Homo sapiens: one gene and its partner. Changing the gene in region 2 together with the main gene of any one other region gives a genetic interaction. Each region holds a gene or a part of one and is shown on either strand. Other genes may lie near its edges.

Region 1 (3,832 bases), on a different chromosome or scaffold from region 2:
TGAGTAGAATTCTGTTCCTACAATCAAATGATCCTACAGATTTGGCATTGATTTGGCATTTGCTCTGCCAGTATTCACTGTCACATATAAGAAGTTATTTCAACACTTATCATAAATACTCAGAAATTCAAATTCTTAAATTAGAGAAACAAATTTACCTACATAGATTTTTATTTTACTTATTATGAAATACTTTGTTTTTCACTAAAGATCCTAAAATCAATCCAGAACATTTGTATTTGAAAAACATGGCACTTTCTTTTCTTCTTTTTCTTTTGAAAAATGTGACACTGTCTTTCTTTTCTGTGACAGTTTTTCTTTGTGTAAAACTCACAATTAGATAACAAATTTTATCTAGTAGAGATTTAAAAAAAACAAAACTTACCGACAAGAGGAACTCTGTGTGTGTGTGTGTGTGTGTGTGTGTAAATGCGGATGTTTCATTTCCCCTCTTTAGGAATCTATTAATTTTGAAGCTAGGACCCTTCACCAATATGAGTATGAAGAGGTGACATATTTCCCCTTCAATCACAGAATTGCTATCTGACAATCTGTGTGCATCGGTTTTTAAAACTGTGAAAACAGGGATAATACTATATATATATATGTATATATATATATATATATATATATATATACATATATATATATATATCCGATTTCAAGGAAATTATTTGTTTAACAATAAAACAATGGAAATTCAAAGAAATCACTTGTTCAATAATAAACCAACAAATTTGTTAATTACTAAACTCTAAAGATATCAAAAATTGATAACCTATAGAATGCAGCATTTTATTCATTGAAAATTTTTTACTTAAATGCTTAGCTAAAGTTAATGAGTTCATAGTACCTGTTGTTAAAATGGAAATGAAGGTAACAGCAATGAAGAAGATGACAAAAATCATTTCTATTCTCATTTGGAACCAGCGCAGTGTTGACAGGTACAAGAACCAGTTGGCAGTATGTAAATTCAGAGCTTTGTGGAACAGAGTTTCAAAGTAAGGCTGCCGTCCGAAGGCACGAAGTGTCCATAGTCCTTTTAAGCTTGTAACAAGATGAGTGAAAATTGGACTCCTGCCTGTGAAATATTTCCATAGAAAACATTGCAAATAACATAAACACAAAATGTAATTTCATAATATCTTGTACCTGAAAAAGACTAAATTAGAATAATCATATCACAAATGTCATTGGTTAAAAAGCTTTTTTTCACACTGGTGCCATTCTTTGAATAGATATGATTTGTTATTTTATTAATGAGTTACCCTCTTTTTTTACTTGGCTACCAGAGATGGGAACTTAAAAAATTACCACCAATATTTATTCCTCTTTCTTGGCTACCACTGGGAGTTTTCTGGCTAATTCTAAATTAATTCTTACTAAAAAAATTTTCTTTTAAGACAATTTTTTCAAGTATCTAAATTAAGGAAGTTTATGTGACTTGATTTAGCTAATAATCTACAAAGCAGAAATATACTGAAAAAGTATTGCCTGAAAATGCACCCACACTAAGGCTGTCACTGCAAAATGTGATTCCCTAACAGCTCAAGTAGAGTTTGGGGGCACACGAAATGGCAGCTCCAACACATGAAGAAAGGGTGTCTGAAGACAACAAGCCAAAGGGACAAATTTGGTCAAGTATCATTTGGGAACCCAGAGAAACCTTTAGTAATAGCAGCACTATCCTTGTTTAATTTGACTGATATAAGTTTATTATAAATGAATGTCCTGTACACCAACTGTGGTAAGATTCTATATACCTATTTTAAAACCAAAATGAAGTCACATGGTCATTAATTAAGAAAAAAAATCCATGTGTACTTTGTAATATAGTTTCCTTTTATATACACATGCATGTAGAAAAAAATTATTGTTATATGATGTAAAAGTTTAAAAGCAGAATTTTTTTTAAGTAGATTAACAATAAAGAATCTCAAATAGCTCTTATAGCTTTTTTACAAGATGAGTATCGCACATTCACTGTCATACCTTCAGATTCCAGTTGTTTGAGTTGCTGTGAGGTTTGGAGGAAATATGCTCTCAACATAATAAAAGCCACTATCACTGGCACTGTTGCAACAAAGATGTAGGGTTGTAAAACTGCGACAACTGCTATAGCTCCAATCACAATTAATAACAACTGTAAGATCAAAGAAAACATGTTGGTGAGTAAACATTTTCACATTGCAAAGTGGACAAAGTGTGTCAGTGATTTATTTCTTTTTTTTTTTTTGCATACTTTAAACACCTCAAACTTTTTTTTATTTTTTTTATTATACTTTAAGTTTTAGGGTACATGTGCACATTGTGCAGGTTAGTTACATATGTATACATGTGCCATGCTGGTGCACTGCACCCACTAACTCGTCATCTAGCATTAGGTATATCTCCCAGTGCTATCCCTCCCCCCTCCCCCCACCCCACAACAGTCCCCAGAGTGTGATATTCCCCTTCCTGTGTCCATGTGATCTCATTGTTCAATTCCCACCTATGAGTGAGAATATGCGGTGTTTGGTTTTTTGTTCTTGCGATAGTTTACTGAGAATGATGTTTTCCAATTTCATCCATGTCCCTACAAAGGACATGAACTCATCATTTTTTATGGCTGCATAGTGTTCCATGGTGTATATGTGCCACATTTTCTTAATCCAGTCTATCATTGTTGGACTAAATACTCTCCCCATTCTATTCCTAGTCAGAAAGTAGCCATTTGCAAGTACATTTTTCATAGGCTCTATGAAAATTTTAAAAATTGTTTAGGTCACTGATAACATTTTTGAAGTTTGAAAACATGGTGTTCTTTGATCTTTGGATATTTTCATTTCCCAGACACTTTAAAGTATTGCATGATAAATACATTTTAAGTGAATATTAATTTAAAATAAACTATTTTTAAATAATTTTAGTATGAAGGTGAATCTTAGGATTTATTTTGGTTAGACAGTTTTTGAAAGCTGGGCATTCGTCTTGGAGTCTTTTGATTCAGAAAGTTCTGCTTGAAATACAAGCTTGTCATTTAGGCAAGCTATCTAACCTTTCGGAGCATATTTTCTCATGCTTAACATTGAAATAAATCATACTTAATAAATTTCTATATTTCTACATTACACCAAATACATACATTTTTAAAAGGTACAAAGTCCGCTAACATGTACTTCACAATAATCCATTTGAATAAAGTATAAAGTAACTGTCTGCAGAAAGGATTAAAAAAAACCACTTTATAATATCCATATGCTGTTCAGTGAGCCAGTTCTCTACCCGTTACCATAAGTGACACATGTATTTTCAACTGATATAACTTTAGAACTGAAAGGGACCATTATCAGGTTTATATTCCCCATTCTACAAGTGACAAATCTGAGACCCTTCAAGATAAGTGTCTGCTCAAGGTAAAATAGTGGGAATCTGTAGAAAATAACCAAGATTTTCAATTTTCACTATACAGTGCTCCAATCCGGAAAGCAAATTTGTCAGAACATTGTCAAAGTTAGAAAATAGAATGAAGATTACATGAGGTATCAAAATACTCAAACTCAAAGAAGCAAAGAACAGAACCATGGGTAACAGGACAGGGGAGAGAGGGAAATGGGGAGATACTAATCAACAGGTATAAAATTTCAGTAGTGCAAAATGAATAAGTTCCAGAGATCTGCTGTGCAACATTTACCCATGGTGAACAATATTGTATTTTACACATAAAAATCTGTTAAGAGGGTAAATCTCATGTTAAGTGGACTTGCCACAATAAAATTCAAATTTTAAAAAGAGAAAAATAATAGAAAATAGAGTGAACAGAGACTTTTTTTTAAAAAAAGAAAATTTATAG
Region 2 (3,785 bases):
CTTCCACTTCTGGGGCCACCTCTGGATCCCGTTCAGAAAACCACTTTATTGCAATGCAGAGGTTGAGAGGAGGACTTGGTTGATGTTTAAAGAGAAGTTCCCAGCCAAGGGCCTCGGGGAGCGTTCTAAATATGAATGAATGGGATATTTTGAAATGAACTTTGTCAGTGTTGCCTCTTGCAATGCCTCAGTAGCATCTCAGTGGTGTGTGAAGTTTGGAGATAGATGGATAAGGGAATAATAGGCCACAGAAGGTGAACTTTGTGCTTCAAGGACATTGGTGAGAGTCCAACAGACACAATTTATACTGCGACAGAACTTCAGCATTGTAATTATGTAAATAACTCTAACCAAGGCTGTGTTTAGATTGTATTAACTATCTTCTTTGGACTTCTGAAGAGACCACTCAATCCATCCATGTACTTCCCTCTTGAAACCTGATGTCAGCTGCTGTTGAACTTTTTAAAGAAGTGCATGAAAAACCATTTTTGAACCTTAAAAGGTACTGGTACTATAGCATTTTGCTATCTTTTTTAGTGTTAAAGAGATAAAGAATAATAATTAACCAACCTTGTTTAATAGATTTGGGTCATTTAGAAGCCTGACAACTCATTTTCATATTGTAATCTATGTTTATAATACTACTACTGTTATCAGTAATGCTAAATGTGTAATAATGTAACATGATTTCCCTCCAGAGAAAGCACAATTTAAAACAATCCTTACTAAGTAGGTGATGAGTTTGACAGTTTTTGACATTTATATTAAATAACATGTTTCTCTATAAAGTATGGTAATAGCTTTAGTGAATTAAATTTAGTTGAGCATAGAGAACAAAGTAAAAGTAGTGTTGTCCAGGAAGTCAGAATTTTTAACTGTACTGAATAGGTTCCCCAATCCATCGTATTAAAAAACAATTAACTGCCCTCTGAAATAATGGGATTAGAAACAAACAAAACTCTTAAGTCCTAAAAGTTCTCAATGTAGAGGCATAAACCTGTGCTGAACATAACTTCTCATGTATATTACCCAATGGAAAATATAATGATCAGCAAAAAGACTGGATTTGCAGAAGTTTTTTTTTTTTTTTTCTTCATGCCTGATGAAAGCTTTGGCGACCCCAATATATGTATTTTTTGAATCTATGAACCTGAAAAGGGTCAGAAGGATGCCCAGACATCAGCCTCCTTCTTTCACCCCTTACCCCAAAGAGAAAGAGTTTGAAACTCGAGACCATAAAGATATTCTTTAGTGGAGGCTGGATGTGCATTAGCCTGGATCCTCAGTTCTCAAATGTGTGTGGCAGCCAGGATGACTAGATCCTGGGTTTCCATCCTTGAGATTCTGAAGTATGAAGTCTGAGGGAAACCAGAGTCTGTATTTTTCTAAACTCCCTGGCTGTTCTGATCGGCCAGTTTTCGGAAACACTGACTTAGGTTTCAGGAAGTTGCCATGGGAAACAAATAATTTGAACTTTGGAACAGGGTTGGCATTCAACCACGCAGGAAGCCTACTATTTAAATCCTTGGCTTCAGGTTAGTGACATTTAATGCCATCTAGCTAGCAATTGCGACCTTAATTTAACTTTCCAGTCTTAGCTGAGGCTGAGAAAGCTAAAGTTTGGTTTTGACAGGTTTTCCAAAAGTAAAGATGCTACTTCCCACTGTATGGGGGAGATTGAACTTTCCCCGTCTCCCGTCTTCTGCCTCCCACTCCATACCCCGCCAAGGAAAGGCATGTACAAAAATTATGCAATTCAGTGTTCCAAGTCTCTGTGTAACCAGCTCAGTGTTTTGGTGGAAAAAACATTTTAAGTTTTACTGATAATTTGAGGTTAGATGGGAGGATGAATTGTCACATCTATCCACACTGTCAAACAGGTTGGTGTGGGTTCATTGGCATTCTTTGCAATACTGCTTAATTGCTGATACCATATGAATGAAACATGGGCTGTGATTACTGCAATCACTGTGCTATCGGCAGATGATGCTTTGGAAGATGCAGAAGCAATAATAAAGTACTTGACTACCTACTGGTGTAATCTCAATGCAAGCCCCAACTTTCTTATCCAACTTTTTCATAGTAAGTGCGAAGACTGAGCCAGATTGGCCAATTAAAAACGAAAACCTGACTAGGTTCTGTAGAGCCAATTAGACTTGAAATACGTTTGTGTTTCTAGAATCACAGCTCAAGCATTCTGTTTATCGCTCACTCTCCCTTGTACAGCCTTATTTTGTTGGTGCTTTGCATTTTGATATTGCTGTGAGCCTTGCATGACATCATGAGGCCGGATGAAACTTCTCAGTCCAGCAGTTTCCAGTCCTAACAAATGCTCCCACCTGAATTTGTATATGACTGCATTTGTGTGTGTGTGTGTGTTTTCAGCAAATTCCAGATTTGTTTCCTTTTGGCCTCCTGCAAAGTCTCCAGAAGAAAATTTGCCAATCTTTCCTACTTTCTATTTTTATGATGACAATCAAAGCCGGCCTGAGAAACACTATTTGTGACTTTTTAAACGATTAGTGATGTCCTTAAAATGTGGTCTGCCAATCTGTACAAAATGGTCCTATTTTTGTGAAGAGGGACATAAGATAAAATGATGTTATACATCAATATGTATATATGTATTTCTATATAGACTTGGAGAATACTGCCAAAACATTTATGACAAGCTGTATCACTGCCTTCGTTTATATTTTTTTAACTGTGATAATCCCCACAGGCACATTAACTGTTGCACTTTTGAATGTCCAAAATTTATATTTTAGAAATAATAAAAAGAAAGATACTTACATGTTCCCAAAACAATGGTGTGGTGAATGTGTGAGAAAAACTAACTTGATAGGGTCTACCAATACAAAATGTATTACGAATGCCCCTGTTCATGTTTTTGTTTTAAAACGTGTAAATGAAGATCTTTATATTTCAATAAATGATATATAATTTAAAGTTATACTAAGGTTTCAGCATTTTTGTTTTTAGTTTAATCATAAGAATTAAAGCAATCCTGTTCTATTTACTTTCTTAGCAACATTTGTAGGACTCTATATTAGGCCTTTTTTTTTTTTTTCCTGAGACGGAGTTTTGCTCTTGTCATCCAGGCTGGAGTGCAGTGGCGTGATCTCAGTTCACTGCAACTTCTGCCTCCCGAGTTCAAGCAATTCTCCTGCCTCAGCCTCCCAAGTAGCTGGGATTATAGGCGCCTGCCACCATGCCTGGCTAATTTTTGTATTTTTAGTAGAGATGGGGGTTTCATCATGTTGGCCGGGCTGGTCTCGAACTCCTGACCTTAGATGATCTGCCTGCCTCGGCCTCCCAAAGTGCTGGGATTACAGGTGTGAACCACCACGCCTGGCCTTTATTAGGCTTTTGATGAACCAATAGAATATCTAAGGTTTAAGACATTATATGAGCTAGATTGTTCCACGACACAGTATTTGACTTAAAGATGATTGGCACTTGGCTCATCTTTGGTCTCATCATTTTTTTGATTGTTCATCTTTATCCTGTGGTGTTTTCTTCCCCTGCATAAGGAATACAGGACTGCAGTAACTCTGTACAACATTCAACTGTCGTAAAAGTGTAGGAAGTAAAATGTTAAATTATTTTTTTCACCGTGTCTTCTTCCCTGTCCCTGTCCTGTTTCCAAGAGGCAGAGCTGCACCACTTGGTGTGTCTTTTAAACTTCCAGTTCCCTTTGTATGCATCTGTGTATATATATTCCCATACACACATCTCTACGTTTGCTTCATATCTACCTAAATGGGTTCTCACTTTATGTAATC

Evidence for each region.
Region 1: changes in PDGFRA (region 2) and CFTR together harm fitness more than expected from each alone (negative genetic interaction), as found in Homo sapiens cells (one study listed by BioGRID).

Annotation. Positions count from the first base shown.
Region 1 is NC_000007.14:117,608,830-117,612,661, reverse strand, and holds part of CFTR (cystic fibrosis transmembrane conductance regulator), read right to left. Parts: intron 2,144-3,832; coding exon 1,993-2,143; intron 1,082-1,992; coding exon 854-1,081; intron 1-853. UniProt on the Homo sapiens protein: Epithelial ion channel that plays an important role in the regulation of epithelial ion and water transport and fluid homeostasis. Mediates the transport of chloride ions across the cell membrane.
Region 2 is NC_000004.12:54,295,293-54,299,077, forward strand, and holds the end of PDGFRA (platelet-derived growth factor receptor alpha isoform 1 precursor), read left to right. Parts: 3' UTR 1-2,953; downstream 2,954-3,785. UniProt on the Homo sapiens protein: Tyrosine-protein kinase that acts as a cell-surface receptor for PDGFA, PDGFB and PDGFC and plays an essential role in the regulation of embryonic development, cell proliferation, survival and chemotaxis.